Homo sapiens: one gene and its partners. The protein of the gene in region 3 purifies or fractionates together with the protein of the main gene of each other region. This does not show direct contact. Each region holds a gene or a part of one and is shown on either strand. Other genes may lie near its edges.

Region 1 (3,500 bases), on a different chromosome or scaffold from region 3:
CAGCTGGCTTCACCCAGTGGATCCTGCACCGGGGCTGCAGGTGGAGCTGCCTGCCAATCCCATGCCGTGCGCCTGCACTCCCCAGCCCTTTGGTGGTCGATGGGACTGGGCGTCGTGGAGCAGGGGGTGGCGCTCCTCGGGGAGGCTCGGGCCGCACAGGAGCCCATGGAGGGGGTGGGAGGCTCAGGCATAGCGGGCTGCAGGTCCCGAACCCTGCCCTGCGGGAAGGCAGCTAAGGCCCGGTGAGAAATCGAGCGTAGCGCCAGTGGGTTGGCACTGCTGGGGGACCCAGTACATCCTCCGCAGCCACTGGCCCGGGTGCTAAGCCCCTCACTGCCCGGGGCCGGCAGGGCCTGCAGGGCCGGCCGGCTGCTCCGAGTGCGGGGCCCGCCAAGCCCACGCCCACCTGGAACTCCAGCTGGCCCGCAAGCGCCGCGCAGCCCTGGTTCCCACTCGCGCCTCTCCCTCCACACCTCCCTGCAAGCTGAGGGAGCCGGCTCCGGCCTTGGCCAGCCCAGAAACGGGCTCCCACAGCGCAGCGGTGGGCTGAAGGGCTCCTCAAGTGCCGTCAAAGTGGGAGCCCAGGCAGAGGAGGTGCGGAGAGCAAGCGAGGGCTCTGAGGACTGCCAGCACGCTGTCACCTCTCAAGAAGAATCCAGGTGGGGCTTTGTGCCTTTCCCACACTTTGGCCATTCCGTCCTCCAGGCCTGCAGCACCCATAGCTGCGATCTCAGCCTTTCCCAGGGAGTGGAGGTCAGTGGGGCAGATCCTGAGGATGGGCGCACACTCCTGCCTCGGCAGCTTCCAGGACTTCTGTTTCAGGCCCAGCCCACGCTGAGCTCTAGTGTTTTAGTGAGATCATGGCTGGAATCTTTCCTGCTTGTCTGGTGCCCAGCATTTTGCCCCTGTGCTCGGCCATCGTAGAGCCAGAAGAGCCAGTGCTTCCTCTGTCTCTCATTGGAGGAAGCAGGCCTGTCCTTAGCTTCTAGCTGCTGGCTTTCCCCAAGACTTCAGCTCTGTGATGGCTGCAACAAAAGTTATGATGCTGTGGGTTATCTGGTTTCTTCTTAACTGGTAAGAGCAGGAGTGATGCACTTTCTGGCTTTTTACATTCTAGGTGGAAGCGGAACTCCAGCATTTGTTCCTGGGGGTGCACTAGGATGTGTTGGATTTGGATGTTGTCGGCAGCTGTGTGTTGTGTGAAGAGCAGGGCTCTAGAGTCAGCTAGACTTGGTTTCAGTCCTAGGCCAGCCACTTGTTGCCATTTCATCGCAGTCACGTACCTCTTCCAGTCTCAGCTTCCTTATTCATAAAATCAGAAAAAAAACACCGTGTTGGAGATGTGAGATTAAATGAAATACATAAAATGTCTAGCTGAGTGTCTGGTATATATTAGGCATTCAGTAAATCACAGCTGGTTTAATCAATACAAAAGCATTAGTATAGTGTATTATTACAGAATGCCATCAGTCATGTCAGGCACTATTTTCCAGTTCCCTTCTTGATGATACTCATTTGTGTAGTAGCATTTTTCTTACTTCAAAACAGTAGGTTGATGTCTTCAGGGAAAGATCTGTGTTCATTACTAGGTCCTTTTTGCTAACTCCTCACATCCAAATTATATCACCATTTTGCAAACCTAGTGACTTAATGAGTTTAGGCATTTAGTAGCAGCAGCTGCAGTCATTGACAAAAGGGTAAAAACCAGTCATAACATGACTCCCTGGAAAGAACACAACACCCACCAGCAGTCGCGACAAAGGGGTCATGTCTGAGTCTGATCCATCCTTTTGATGCAGCTGCCAGTTTACAAGAAATATAGAGGACAAAGGTTTGTGTTAAACTACTTGATGAGCTTGCAGTCACAAAATCCAGGCTGTGGGGAATTCTGCAGGCCAAATAGTGAGAGATAAAGAGATACAGAGAAAACTCTGTAAATTAAACAAGATTCAAAAGACATATCAGGTCAAAAGTATAGACAAGACCAAAGTATGATGTCTAAGAATAGACACTTGGTTGATAAAACCACAAAGATGTGCAGGGAAGTAGTTCCTATAAAAATGGGAATGGTGGTTGCCTTTGGAGGGAAGGAGGGGCTGCAACGGGAAAGGGCCACAGAGAGGCTTCTGAGTGGGCTACAAGGCACGTTGAGCTGTTGTTAATTCACTCAGCTATACGTAGTTTGTGCACTCTTCTATATGGGTGTTTCACAGTAAAGAGGAAAACTCACGTCTTTCACAACTGTTTATATGTGTGTTAGATACGGACTGCAGCTAAGATGTCAGTTTTTAGTTCTTGTATGGTTCTCAGGGATTCATATACATGGTTCATCTGTTTTCTCATGGTTATGATTCCTAAGAAAGTATGGGTTGTGTCTCCACTAATATCTTTATAAGTTGTGTGTTATTTTTTGAGTTATTACTAAATATTTATTCAAAGAGATGAAATGTCCACCCAGGAATTCTTGTCATGTGTGTTAAGAGTTGAAAACAGCTAGATTTTTTTCTAGTGACTTTGAGGCTAAGAAATTTACCTTGTCTCTCTTTTCTTTCTTTCTTTTTTTTTTTTTGGTGTAGACGTAAAATTCATCCTGATCAGAAAAATATTAATGCCTATGTTGTGTTTAAGGAGGAGAGTGCTGCCACGCAAGCATTGAAAAGGTAATTTTATCCCTTAGGTTTGAACAGAATAATTGTCCTATAAGTATGTATGAGTACTTTTTTTATTCTTTGGTTTCACTTTAGCATAGATGTTTTAGTAATCGAGTGCTCATTTTTAACAACCATTTTCCCTTTGTATTTATAATACAGAAATGGGGCCCAGATTGCAGATGGATTTCGTATTAGAGTTGATCTCGCATCTGAGACCTCATCTGTAAGTAGTACTTGATTTGTTTAAAGAACGAGAGCTTTGTAGAGAGAAATGTTTCCTTCCAGGCTTTTCCTGGAAGGGGACTGGAATCAGCAATGTGAGGGAAGCGCAGAAGGAAACAGCCTATGTCCTCTGTGGTTACAGAGTTGATGGCAAGAGAGGCACAAGGACCGAGGTCAACATTCCCTTCAAAAACGTAGTCCTGGCTGGGCACAATGGCTCATGCCTGTAATCCTAACATTTTGGGAGGCCAAGGCGGGAGGATCACTTGAGCCCAGGAGTTAAGAGCAGCCTGAGCAATGTAGCAAGACCCTGCCTTTACAAAAAAAAAAAAAAAAATTAGTCAAGTGTGTGATGCATGCCGACAGTCCCAGCTACTCAGAAGGCTGAGGTGGGAGCACCACCTGAGCCCAGGAGTTTGAGGCTGCAGTGAGCTGTAGTCGTGCCACTGCATTCTAGCCTGGGCAACAGAGGGCGACCCTGTTTCTTAAAAAGAAACAAAAACATAGTCCTCTTCAAATAAGCATAATTAGGTCAGAAGGTACATTAGACATCATCTGGTCTAACACATTATAGACCGAGGTCTAGAAAGTTCAATTATTCATTAGACAGTTTTTAGTACACACTCT
Region 2 (3,500 bases), on a different chromosome or scaffold from region 3:
TCTCAGCCTTGTTACTAACATACTCTGATTTAGGGCAAGTCAAACAATTTATAATTATTTAAAGTTTTTTTTATAGTTGGAGAGTATACTTTTGGTTGGGCAAATAAAAGTTTTAAAAGAGGAATGAAGATGGCAGTATGTTAAAATACACATTTACTTGCAGCATTTAAAGGAGTACAGCTGGGCGGGGTGACTCATGCCTGTAATCCCAGAATTTTGGGAGGCCGAGGCAAGTGGATCACTTGAGGCCAGGAGTTTGAGACCAGCCTGGCCAACATGGCGAAACCCCATGTCTACTAAAAATAAAAATATTATCTGGGCATGTGCCTGTAGTCCTAGCTACTTGGGAGGCTGAGGCACACCTTGAAGCAGAGGTTGCAGTGAGCCGAGATCATGTCACTGCACTCCAGCCTGGGTGACAGTGAGACTGTCTCAAAAAAAGGAAAATTAATTAAAGGAATACAAATGTTAAAATGCAAATAGGCACTTTGCACTTACTCTTTTGAAAAAAATTATAATGTAAAAGTGTAAGTAAATGTAAGAAAAAGAAACATCTAAGTATGTACTCATCTTTCCTGTCTTACCTGTGTCCTTGTCCCACCACTTGAACCAATCTTTGGTTCACAGAATATCTCTACTGTTTTTAAATGACGGGCTCTAAACCAAAGACAGAAGAGTGCTTTAGATGAATATTATTAGGGGTAGGATGTGAACTGCATTCATAAATGCCAAACTCCAGGGATGAGTTGAGTTAAGTTCTATTGGGTTTGTATGTACTGAGAGAAGAGAAAAGGATTTTCTGCTTTTTTTTTTTTTTTTTTTTTTTTTTCCAGCTGGAGTTTCTCTCTTGTTGCCCAGGCTGGAGTGCAATGGTGTGATCTCAGCTCACTGCAACCTCCGCCTCCCGGGTTCAAGTGATTCTCTTACCTCAGCCTTCCTGAGTAGCTGGGATTACAAGCATGCACCACCATGCTGGCTAATTTTGTATTTTTAGTAGAGACAGGGATTCTCCATGTTGGTCAGGCTGGTCTCGAACTCCCAACCTCAGGTGATCCGCCCTCCTCGGCCTCCCAAAGTGCTGGGACTACAGGCATGAGCCACCGCACCCGGCGAGAAAAGGATTTCTCGTCAGGGTAGAAAAGTCTGCAGTAATGCAGGGTAGAAAAGTCTGCAGTAATGCAGGGTTTGTGTAACAAATAGTTCGATAGTATTTCATACTACTGACTAGCAGGTAAGATGATCTTACCTGCTATTTTGCCCTGGAAGGTCACAGCATACAAATATTTTCTGTGACAGATGTTTTACCCTTTTTCCTTCTCAAAAGTATTCTGGTTTGTATAATAACTTGTAAATTTTCAGAAGAGATTAGAGGTTTACTGTGTGCTTATTGGCAAGACTTTCTTTCCTGCTATACTAACAAAGTAACATAATGCACGTAAGTGGGTACTGAAATATTTGTTACATTGGGTATGGCAGGCTGGGTGGGCGTGGCTCATACCTGTAATCCCAGCACTTTGGGAGGCTGAGGTGGGAGGATTACTTGAGTTCAGGAGTTCAAGACCAGTCTGGGCAACATAGTGACACCCCATGTCTTAAAAATTTTTTTTTTAAATATATTGGCTGTGGAAAATGTAAATTTATAGGGCAGAAAGTTGCAGTTGAGCAAGATAATGAAAATAGGATTATTTTTGCCTTTTGAGTTGGAGGAAGAAAAAAAATAGGAGGGCAGTGACTGAGTAAAATTAAGATACATTTATATACAAGGTTACATAAAAGATTTTTTTTTTCTTTGACCAGCAGGCAAGAAGAAAACAATGTCTAGAAACATGGACTCTGGGGCCAGCCTGCCTGGGTCTAAATCTCTGCTGAGACTGAGCCACTTTTTGTTTAATCTCTCTGCTTCCTTATCTGTAAATTGAGGACAATAATATGGGAGGGTAATATTAATATCTATCACGTAGGGATGTTAAGAAGATTGACAGAATAAAACATTTAGAGTTGTAGGCTGGGCGTGGTGGCTCACACCTGTAATACTAGCACTTAGGGAGGCAGACAGGAGGACTGATTGAGGCCAGGAGTTCAAGACCCAACCAGGGCCAGGTGCAGTGGCTCATGCCTGTAATCCCAGCACTTTGGGAGGCCAAGGCTGGTGGATCACTTGAGGTCAGGAGTTTGAGACCAGCCTGGCCAACATGGCAAAACCCCATCTCTACCAAAAAATATACAAAAAAAATTAGGCGGGTATAGTGGCACATGCCTGTAAGGGGCTGCATAGAGGGCTGAGGCAGGAGAATGGCTTGAACCCAGGAGGTGGAGGTTGCAGTGAGCTGAGATTGTGCCACTGCACTCCAGCCTGGATGACATAGCAAGATTCTGTCTCAAAAAAAAAAAAGAAAAGAAAAAGAATTATTATTATTATTATTATTTTTTTAAGATGGCGTTTCGCTCTTATTGCCCAGGCTGGAGCGATCTTGACTCATTGCAACTTCCGCCTCCCAGGTTCAGGCGATTGATTCTCTTGCCTCAGCCTCCTGAGTAGCTGAGATTACACACAGGTACCACCATGCGTGGCTAATTTTGTATTTTTAGTAGAGACGGGGTTTCTCCATGTTGGTCAGGCTGGTCTCGAACTCCTGCTCTCAGGTGATCTGCCCACCTCAGCCTCTCAAAGTGCTGGGATTACAGGTGTGAGCCACCACGCCCGGCAAAAAAAAAAAAAAGAACTATTTTGATATTTAATATTGATGCTTGAGGTTGAGGTATATTTAAGTTCGTTTGTGTAGTTAGCCATTAGCTTTATCAGCTGACTAATTGAAGTAATGGCTTAGTATTTTGAGGATTAAATACTAAATGTTAGATACCTTTTTTTAATAGAGACAGGGTCTTGCTATGTTGGCTAGGCTGGTTTGAACTCCTGGCCTCAAACGATCCTCCCATCTTGGCCTCCCAAAGTGCTGCGATTACAGGTGTGAGGAGCCACAACACCCAGTCTGTTAGACGTCTATTAATACAGGATTCTTTATCTTTTTTTTTTTTTTTTTGAGATGGAATCTCGCTGTTGCCCAGGCTGGAGTGCAGTAGTGCAATCTCTGCTCACTGCAGTCACCACCTCCTGGGTTCACGCCATTCTCCTGCCTCAGCCTCCCAAGTAGCTGGGATTACAGGCGCCCACCACCACGCCTGGTTATTTTTTGTATTTTTAGTAGAGACAGGGTTTCATCGTGTTAGTCAGGATGGTCTCGATCTCCTGACCTCATGATCCGCCCTCCTCAGCCTCCCAAAGTGCTGGGATTACAGGCGTGAGCCACGGTACCCGGCCTAGAATTCTTTATTTTTAATGAAAATATTCATGAATCTCATGTTGAACTTTCTAGGGAGAAATTTGTAACTTTGATTATATTTTCAGAGTGATTCGTGACCCCCAAAAGGTTAAGTGCCACTAATCGATGGTGGCGTCAGGTTCTTTTGATGAATGACAGATACTGTCTGATTGAGATAGT
Region 3 (3,500 bases):
TAAATATCAGAAATATAGGCTATCTTGCAGTTTGAATTATCTGCAGAATGTACTGAACTGAGCCTTCAGCATTAAGCACTGAATAGTTCCTTGACCACCTTTTCCACCAGACTGTTCTGAGACCCCAGTTGAGGAGTTGAAGTTCCCAATAGATAGAGGTGCCCCTTTTTACACCCAGAATTTGCCAAACACCTCACCTCTTTTTTCAAATGAAAATGTACCTATTGTTTTGTCTGTTTTTGAAAGACAGCTCACGTATAGAAAGTCCAAATAATATAAAAACCGTAAAGAGGAAAAAATCACTTGAAATCCTAGAGGTGGGAATTATAATATATATGGTATTTTGAAACTTGTAATTTTTTTCACCTAATAGTATATTATAGAATATTTCATGTCAATTGTTATCACTTCATAAATTTTACTATTTGAATGTACCAAAATATAATTTAAAGAATAATATGTTAGTGGATATTTAGGCTACCTCATGTATTTTGAATTGATCAATAACACCACTGTGGGAACTCTTAGATGTACATTTTTGAAAAGTTGTCTGATTATATCTTTAGGGTAAATACTTAATAGTGAAAATCTGGATCAAAAAAATATGTATTTTAAAAATTTCAATACCTAGTTCTAAACTACTCTCCAGAAATGATTAGCGGGCCAGTATGTAACACCTCTGAAAGTGAGACAGCTCATTGAATGTTGTCTTTTTAAAATCTTTTCCAGTTACATAGGTTAGAGATGTAGCTCATTGTTTGTTTGTGGTTTTTTTCACATTATTTGATTACTTTGGAGGTTGAATATATTTTATATGTTTTCATTTTTTTCTTCTAAGAATTGTACATTTCTTGTCCATTGACCATTTTCTATTGAGATGTTTGTTTGTTATTATTGATTTCTAAGTTCTCTTGATATATTTAGGATATGAATCTTTCTTCTCAAATAAAAAATAAGAAATTTTTTTAGCTTATAAAATATATTTTATCTTTAATGATAGTTTTTAAAAAGTATTTTGAAGTTTTGAATTTTTTACAGACAAGTCTGTGACTCTCCTTGATGTTACCTGACTTTATTTCATTTTCCAAACTACAAAATTAAAAATATGCTATATTCATTTATGTTTTTAGTATTATTTTAGTTAATTTATATTTTACACTTAAGTATCTCTTCTCTTTATAATCTAATTTGCTTTTGAAGAAAGAACTGTAAAGGTCTAGGTTTTCTTTTCTCTCCAAATTGGTAACCAGTTATCTCTGTAGCACTTGTTGCCTATTTCATATTTTCCTATTGGTTTGAAAAGCTATCCAGTGAAACAATAAATTCCATTTTCATTGACATTTTTAGGAGCTCATTTTGTACAAAAGAAAGTCCATGAATGTGTGTGAAAGTTTAATGATACACTTAGCTATTAAAGTGGTTTTCTGCTCCCATGGAGATAATACCTGCATACATACTTAAATACGTACAAGTAAAGCAAAGTAAAATAAAACAGCCCTTTATTTTTCCATGTCTTTTAGATAAAATCTTTAACAAAGTAGTTCTAGAATGCTTTACATTCCAATTCTGGGTTGGAATCAGTATGTGAGGGAGAATAGTGGAGGTTGAGATTTGAAGAGTAAGATGGCAGGACATTTTTTCATATTGGATCTTGTCAACCATTTTAAGGACTTTGATTCTGGAGAAAATAGGAAGTCATTGGGAAATTTTAGGTTGAAAAGTAACATGATCTGATTTACTCAGAGTATCATTCTGGCAGCTGCAATGACAGCACAATGTGGAGAGGCAAGGATAGAAGCTGAAAGACCACTAAAGAAGAAGTTCCAATAATACAGAAAAGAGCTAGTGGTGGTTTGGACAAGGGTAGTAGCAGTAGAAGTGGTGAACAAAAATTCTGATATGTTTTGAAGGAAGAGACCATAGAATTTACTGATGGATTGATTAGATTTGGACTATCAGAGGAAAAGAGTCCAGGGTGACTCCAAGGTTTTTTGGCCTATACAACAGGAAAGATGAAGGGACTATTTATCAAGATGGGGAAACCTACAGAAGGAGCCTGAAATCAAAAGTATAGTTTCAGACATTTAATTAGAGATACATAATGCACATCCAAGTGAAGATGTATATTAGGCAGATGGATGCACTATATGGAGTTCCAGCACTGGAGTTAAAAAATTGGCAACATTTAGCAAAAAGATGATATTTACAGCCACAAGAGGAGATAAGATCACCATCACAGTGAGTATACATAGGTAAGAAGAGGACTAAGCCCTGGGGCACTCTAGCATTTAAGAGTCAAGAAGAGGGAGGAACAGCAAAGGGCACTAAGTAAGAAGGTGGGAAATAGGAGGGAAAGTCAGGGAAAGAAAATATTTCAAGAAAGGGTATCAGGTATGTTAAATGGTGCTGATGGTGAAATGATCAAGTAAGATAACCATTGAAACTTGACCGCTTAGCAACACGGAAGTCATTATTGAGGTCTGAGGTTGACAAGAACGGGCTGAGTGGACTGGTGGGGGTGAAAGCCTTCGTGGGTTGTGTTCAATACAGAGAATGAAAACAGAGGAAGCAGAGACAGCAAGTTTAGACAATCTTTTGAGAAGTGTTTCTATAATAAATGGGAGGAAAGAAACAAAGCAGTGGCTAAATGGAAGAAATTATAGCATGTTTATATGTTCATAGGAATGGTCTAGTGCAAAGGAAAGATTGAACATGCAGGAGAGAGGAGAACGATTACTGGAGTGATTTCCTTGAGTGGGTGACAGTATTGGGATTTAAAGCACAACTGGGGGAGCTGATCATGTGAGTACAGAAGGTTCATTCTTACAAACCTGGAGGAAAGGCGTAGCTTATGGGCACAGATGCAGGTGGTAGATAGATATGAAGGTAGGATAAGGCGAGATTTCTCTTTTTTATGCTGGTTTTTTTTTTCTTTGAATTTGAAGCACGGTCATCAACTGAGAGTGATGGTAGAAGAGTAGGTTTGGAAATTTAACAAGAAAGACGTATAAAATAGAAGAATGAACACATTATAGAAAAGAGGTAGAATTTCAGGCTGTGCCAAAGACCCACATAAGAATAGTGGGTACGAATTTAAAGTCAGTTAATGTGATTGTGTTTTTTCTCCAGCCATTGTTGACTTCATGGCTACAGCTGTAAAACAGTCATTAAAATGATTTAACTAGAGTTGAGGTTTTTCCTAGTTGAGAATGACAAAGGGCACTGGAGATGTATGCAGGGCAGCAAATGTAATGATGGATGATAGAATATAAACTGTATAAAGAGTGAAGACATTGAAAAGGTGGTAAGTAAACACATGGGGTGTGGGTTGCAGTGGAGTCAAAGAATTATAGTTGGGGTACTGATCTGGCAAGGTACGAGGTGGTGGTGGTCAGAAGTGAATAACTGTTCCAACTCCTTACTCTTACTGTGTGTCTTATTGTAATTAAAGCTTTGACACACTTAATATCTAATAATTTCCAACTTTCTATTAAGCTAAG
Region 4 (4,060 bases), on a different chromosome or scaffold from region 3:
ATACATGCATATGGTAAAGCAAAATGTTGAAAAGTATATCAAGGTGTTAAATAGCAAGTGCAAGTATTATTCCAGCTCCCAGTACCCTCCTCAGAGGCAACTACTTTTTTTTTTTTTTTTTGAGATGGAGTCTCGCTCTGTCGCCCAGGCTGGAGTGCAGTGGCGCAATCTTGGCTTACTGTAACTTCCGTCTCCCGGTTCAAGCAATTCTCTGCCTCAGCCTCCTGAGTTGCTGGGACTACAGGCGCCCGCTACCACGCCCAGCTAATTTTTGTATTTTTAGTAGAGACGGGGTTTCACCATCTCGGCCAGGCTGGTCTTGAACTAACGTCGTGATCAACCCGCCTCGGCCTCCCAAAGTGCTGGGATTACAGACATGAGCCACCGCCCCCAGCCAATTAAACGTTTTTTTTAAAAAAATAAATGCAATGGAATGCAATGAAGCTATCAAAAATGCCACTGAGGGAGAATATTTATTGACAAATTCAAATGTTCAAGGCATATTCTTAAGTAGGGAAGCGCCAAACTTTCTAAATGGAGCCGGTGTTCTTTTTGTAACTGAGAAGATTTAGTTTAAAAAAAATATATATATATATACACACACACACACACACATATACATACATACATCCGTTGGCTTCACAGTAGCTGGCACCTCCCTCCCCTTTGCTTCAGGCACTTCCTGGGAGTCCTCGTCCATTCTCACCTCAGCGACGAAACCCCTCCACATACCCTGTTTCTCCTCACATTTATCCCCGAAAATGTTATATAATTATGTGTATGGCTTATTGTCTGCTCCCTACCCCCCAAAAAAATGTTCTCCAGGGCAGTGACGTTTCTTTCATTGATTGATACATGTGAAACCACTTGCAACCGTGCTTGGCACACAGCAGGTGCTCAGTGCCCCTCTGGTGAATAACTGAGGGGCACTAGGTCTGTTCTGGGCCGTTTTCCTGCCGCCCACGCCCTCCCTCCCGAAATTCCCACAGACACAGAGTTGCAAGTTACTGCCCTCAGCGAACCTCCCCTTATCTTCCCTATAACCAGGAACCTGGGGCCCTCCAGCTCACAGGGGCCCTCTTGTGGCATGTGGGCGCGTAACAGCTCAGCCGGGACCCCGCCTCAAACGCATGGAACTACACTTCCCCGAATGCAGGTGTCCTCTCGTGGACTCCATTTCCCAGCGGCCTCAGCGGCTGCCCCGCCCCTCCTGGTCCCCGGCGCGCCGCGGGGTGAGCGGCGCCGGGCCTGAGGTCGCCCAGACGCCGTCGGGGCGGAGCCGGGTCGCGAGGCTGCATCCCGGCCGGCGGTTCCGGAGCCTCGCGGCTGGGGAGGCGCGGCCCGGGACGCTCGAGCTTAGGGAGGTGAGCGTCGGCGGCAGGCCAAGCCGGTAGGAGGCGGCGCCCGGCACGGGGACTGCCTGCGGCTGCCGAGGCTCCGAAAGCCTTTGTGGGCGCTGGCGGGCACCCCCGCGTCTGTCACCGGCCCCCGCGCCGGGATCTGGACTCTCGCCCCCCCGCGGGGCGCTCCCTCGCCGTTGCTGGTGCACCCGCGTCCGGCTCGCCGTGGACGCCGGGCCTGGCGTTTCCTCCCGGGCCCGTCCTGCCCACTCCATGTGGGCCTCGCGGACTCGGGGCACCGGGACCCCGAGGGCAGGGCGGACGCAGCCGGGCCCCGGTTTCCGAGTCCGTCCCCAGGACGGCCACCCCTCCCGCCTCGGGACACCCAGCGCTTTCCTCTTCAGAGCTGGTGTTTGGCCGGGCGCGGTGGCTCACGCCTGTAATCCCAGCACTTTGGGAGGCCGAAGCGGGTGGATCACGAGGTCAGGAGATCGAGACCATCCTGACTAACACGGTGAAACCCCGTCTCTACTAAAAATACAAAAAAAATTAGCCGGGCGTAGTGGCGGGCGCCTGTAGTCCCAGCTACTTGTGAGGCCGAGGCAGGAGAATGGCGTGAACCCAGGAGGCGGAGCTTGCAGTGAGCCGAGATCAAGCCCTGCACTCCAGCCTGAGCGACAGAGCGAGACTCCGTCTCAAAAAAGAAACATCGTGTTAGAAATGGGATACATGGGGTCGGGCGTGGTGGCTCACGCCTGTAATCCTAGATTTTTGGGATGCCAAGGCGGGCAGATCACCTGAGATCAGGAGTTCGAGACCAGCCTGGGCAACACGGTGAAACCTCGTCTCTACTAAAAATACAAAAATGAGCCGGGCGCCTGTAGTCCCAGCTACTCGGGAGGCTGAGGCAGGAGAATGGCTTGAACCCGGGAGGCAGAGCTTGCAGTGAGCCGAGATCCTGCCACTGCGCTACTGCACTCCAGTCTGGCCAACAGAGCGAGACTCCGCCTCAAAAAAAAAAAAGCCGTTTTCCGTGGAGTCGGGAGATGATTCGTTGGCGGGAGAGAGAGGAACCGGCTGGGAAAGGCTTGAGGCGGAGGGAAGTCGTCCCGGGGCCGTCGTGGTGGGAGTCCCGGCCCGCCTCGCAGCGGCGTGAACGGGGCAGGTGCCCCGGCGCTGCCTCAGTTTCCTGAGCGGTGCAGTGGGTGCTGGCAGTGCCAGCTGGCGCCGAGGAACTCAGCGGCGTGGGGCGAGCCCTGGCCCTGGTGGGCTCAGCGGGTCGCTGCTGCCACTGCGGCTCCAGCGTCCCCTCCGTAAGCCCCAAGCCTGTGGGGCCTGGGCCTGGCCGGGCGGCCCAGCGCTGCTCTGGTCCGCGGGCTCCTGGCTCCTCCCGAATCCCTGTGAGGGCGCGCGGGGTCCTTCTCAGCGGGAGTCGGGGTTTTAGAGCTGCGGATTCCAGGGCTGGAAAGCAGAAGGGGTTCTTCCTGGCTCCCTTTTTCTTCTCAGATCTGCCTTCTGGAGACTGCGCCGTCCTCCCGGGAGAGCCAGAAAGAGGACATGGCTGCTGGGCAGCGGGAAGCGAGGCCCCAGGTGAGCTCATTGCCCTCCCAGATCCCAGTGGATGGATTTTCCCCACTAACTGGAGTTCTTCACCCGGGACCATCTCCAGCCAGGATGGAGCCCAAGTCCTTTTCTCTTGGAGGAGCTGGTCCGCCCTCATGAGTGGTGGATTCTGTAGGGAGGACCACCCACCCTCCCCACCCGTGTCTAGTGGTTCTCTTTTTTTTTTTTTTTTTTGAATCTCGCTTTGTCGCCCAGGCAGTGGCGGGATCTCGGCTCGCTGCAACCTCTGCCTCCCAGGTTGAAGCAATTCTCCTGCCTCAGCCTCCCAAGTAGCTGGGATTACAGGCTCCCGCCATCACGCCCGGCTAAGTTTTTTTTTTTGTGCTTTTATTAGAGATGGGGTTTCACCACGTTGGCCAGGCTGGTCTCAAACTCCTGACCTCAGGTGATCCACCCGCCTCAGCCTCCCAAAGTGCTGGGATTACAGATGTGCGCCACTGCACCCAGCCCGAATAAATCATTTTCTGTACACATTTATTTGTGTGTGTGTGTTTGTGTATGCATGTTACCATCTATGTTACCATTTTAACCTTTTTTTATTGTGGCAAAATATATATAACATAAAATATACCATTTTAACTTTTTAAGTGTATAATTCAGTGGTATTTTAGGTACTTCCGCATTGCTGTGCAGCCATCATCGCTATCCATCTTTATTGTGTAGATTATCACATTTATTTCTTAACCCTAAGGGGCAGGCATTAAAAGGCAGTTTTACAGAGTAGTTAAGAATGCAAGCTCAGTGAGACATCTGCTGGATTTGAATTACACAAGAAAAAACAAAGTCACAGAGAGGATACAAAATTTGTAGAAGTCAGCCGGCCACAGTGGCTCACACCTGTAATCCCAGCACTTTGGGAGGTCGAGGCCGGCAGATCGCCTGAGGTTAGGAGTTTGAGACCAGCATGGTGGAACCCTGTCTCTACTAAAAATACAAAAATTAGCCGGGCATGGTGTCTAGCACCTGTAATCCCACCTACTCAGGAGGCCGAGGCAAGAGAATCATTGGAACCCGGAAGGTGGAGGTTACAGTAAGCCAAGATCATGCCATTGCACTCCAGCCTAGGCAACAAGAGCCAAACTCTGTCTCAAAGAAAA

What was found. Proteins that work in one complex are often made in the same cells at the same time.
Region 1: the proteins of LIN28B (region 3) and RBM34 purify together in Homo sapiens (affinity purification with mass spectrometry; 2 studies listed by BioGRID and IntAct, with this or other methods). This does not show direct contact.
Region 2: the proteins of LIN28B (region 3) and LARP4 purify together in Homo sapiens (affinity purification with mass spectrometry; 2 studies listed by BioGRID and IntAct, with this or other methods). This does not show direct contact.
Region 4: the proteins of LIN28B (region 3) and ZNF354A purify together in Homo sapiens (affinity purification with mass spectrometry; one large-scale study listed by BioGRID and IntAct). This does not show direct contact.

Annotation. Positions count from the first base shown.
Region 1 is NC_000001.11:235,137,251-235,140,750, reverse strand, and holds part of RBM34 (RNA-binding protein 34), read left to right. Parts: intron 1-2,576; coding exon 2,577-2,660; intron 2,661-2,810; coding exon 2,811-2,874; intron 2,875-3,500.
Region 2 is NC_000012.12:50,407,385-50,410,884, forward strand, and holds part of LARP4 (la-related protein 4), read left to right. Parts: intron 1-3,500. UniProt on the Homo sapiens protein: RNA binding protein that binds to the poly-A tract of mRNA molecules. Associates with the 40S ribosomal subunit and with polysomes. Plays a role in the regulation of mRNA translation.
Region 3 is NC_000006.12:105,026,607-105,030,106, forward strand, and holds part of LIN28B (protein lin-28 homolog B), read left to right. Parts: intron 1-3,500. UniProt on the Homo sapiens protein: Suppressor of microRNA (miRNA) biogenesis, including that of let-7 and possibly of miR107, miR-143 and miR-200c.
Region 4 is NC_000005.10:178,727,860-178,731,919, reverse strand, and holds the start of ZNF354A (zinc finger protein 354A), read left to right. Parts: upstream 1-1,260; 5' UTR 1,261-1,364; exon of another isoform or gene 1,365-1,854; intron 1,855-2,296; exon of another isoform or gene 2,297-2,846; 5' UTR 2,847-2,897; coding exon 2,898-2,930; intron 2,931-4,060.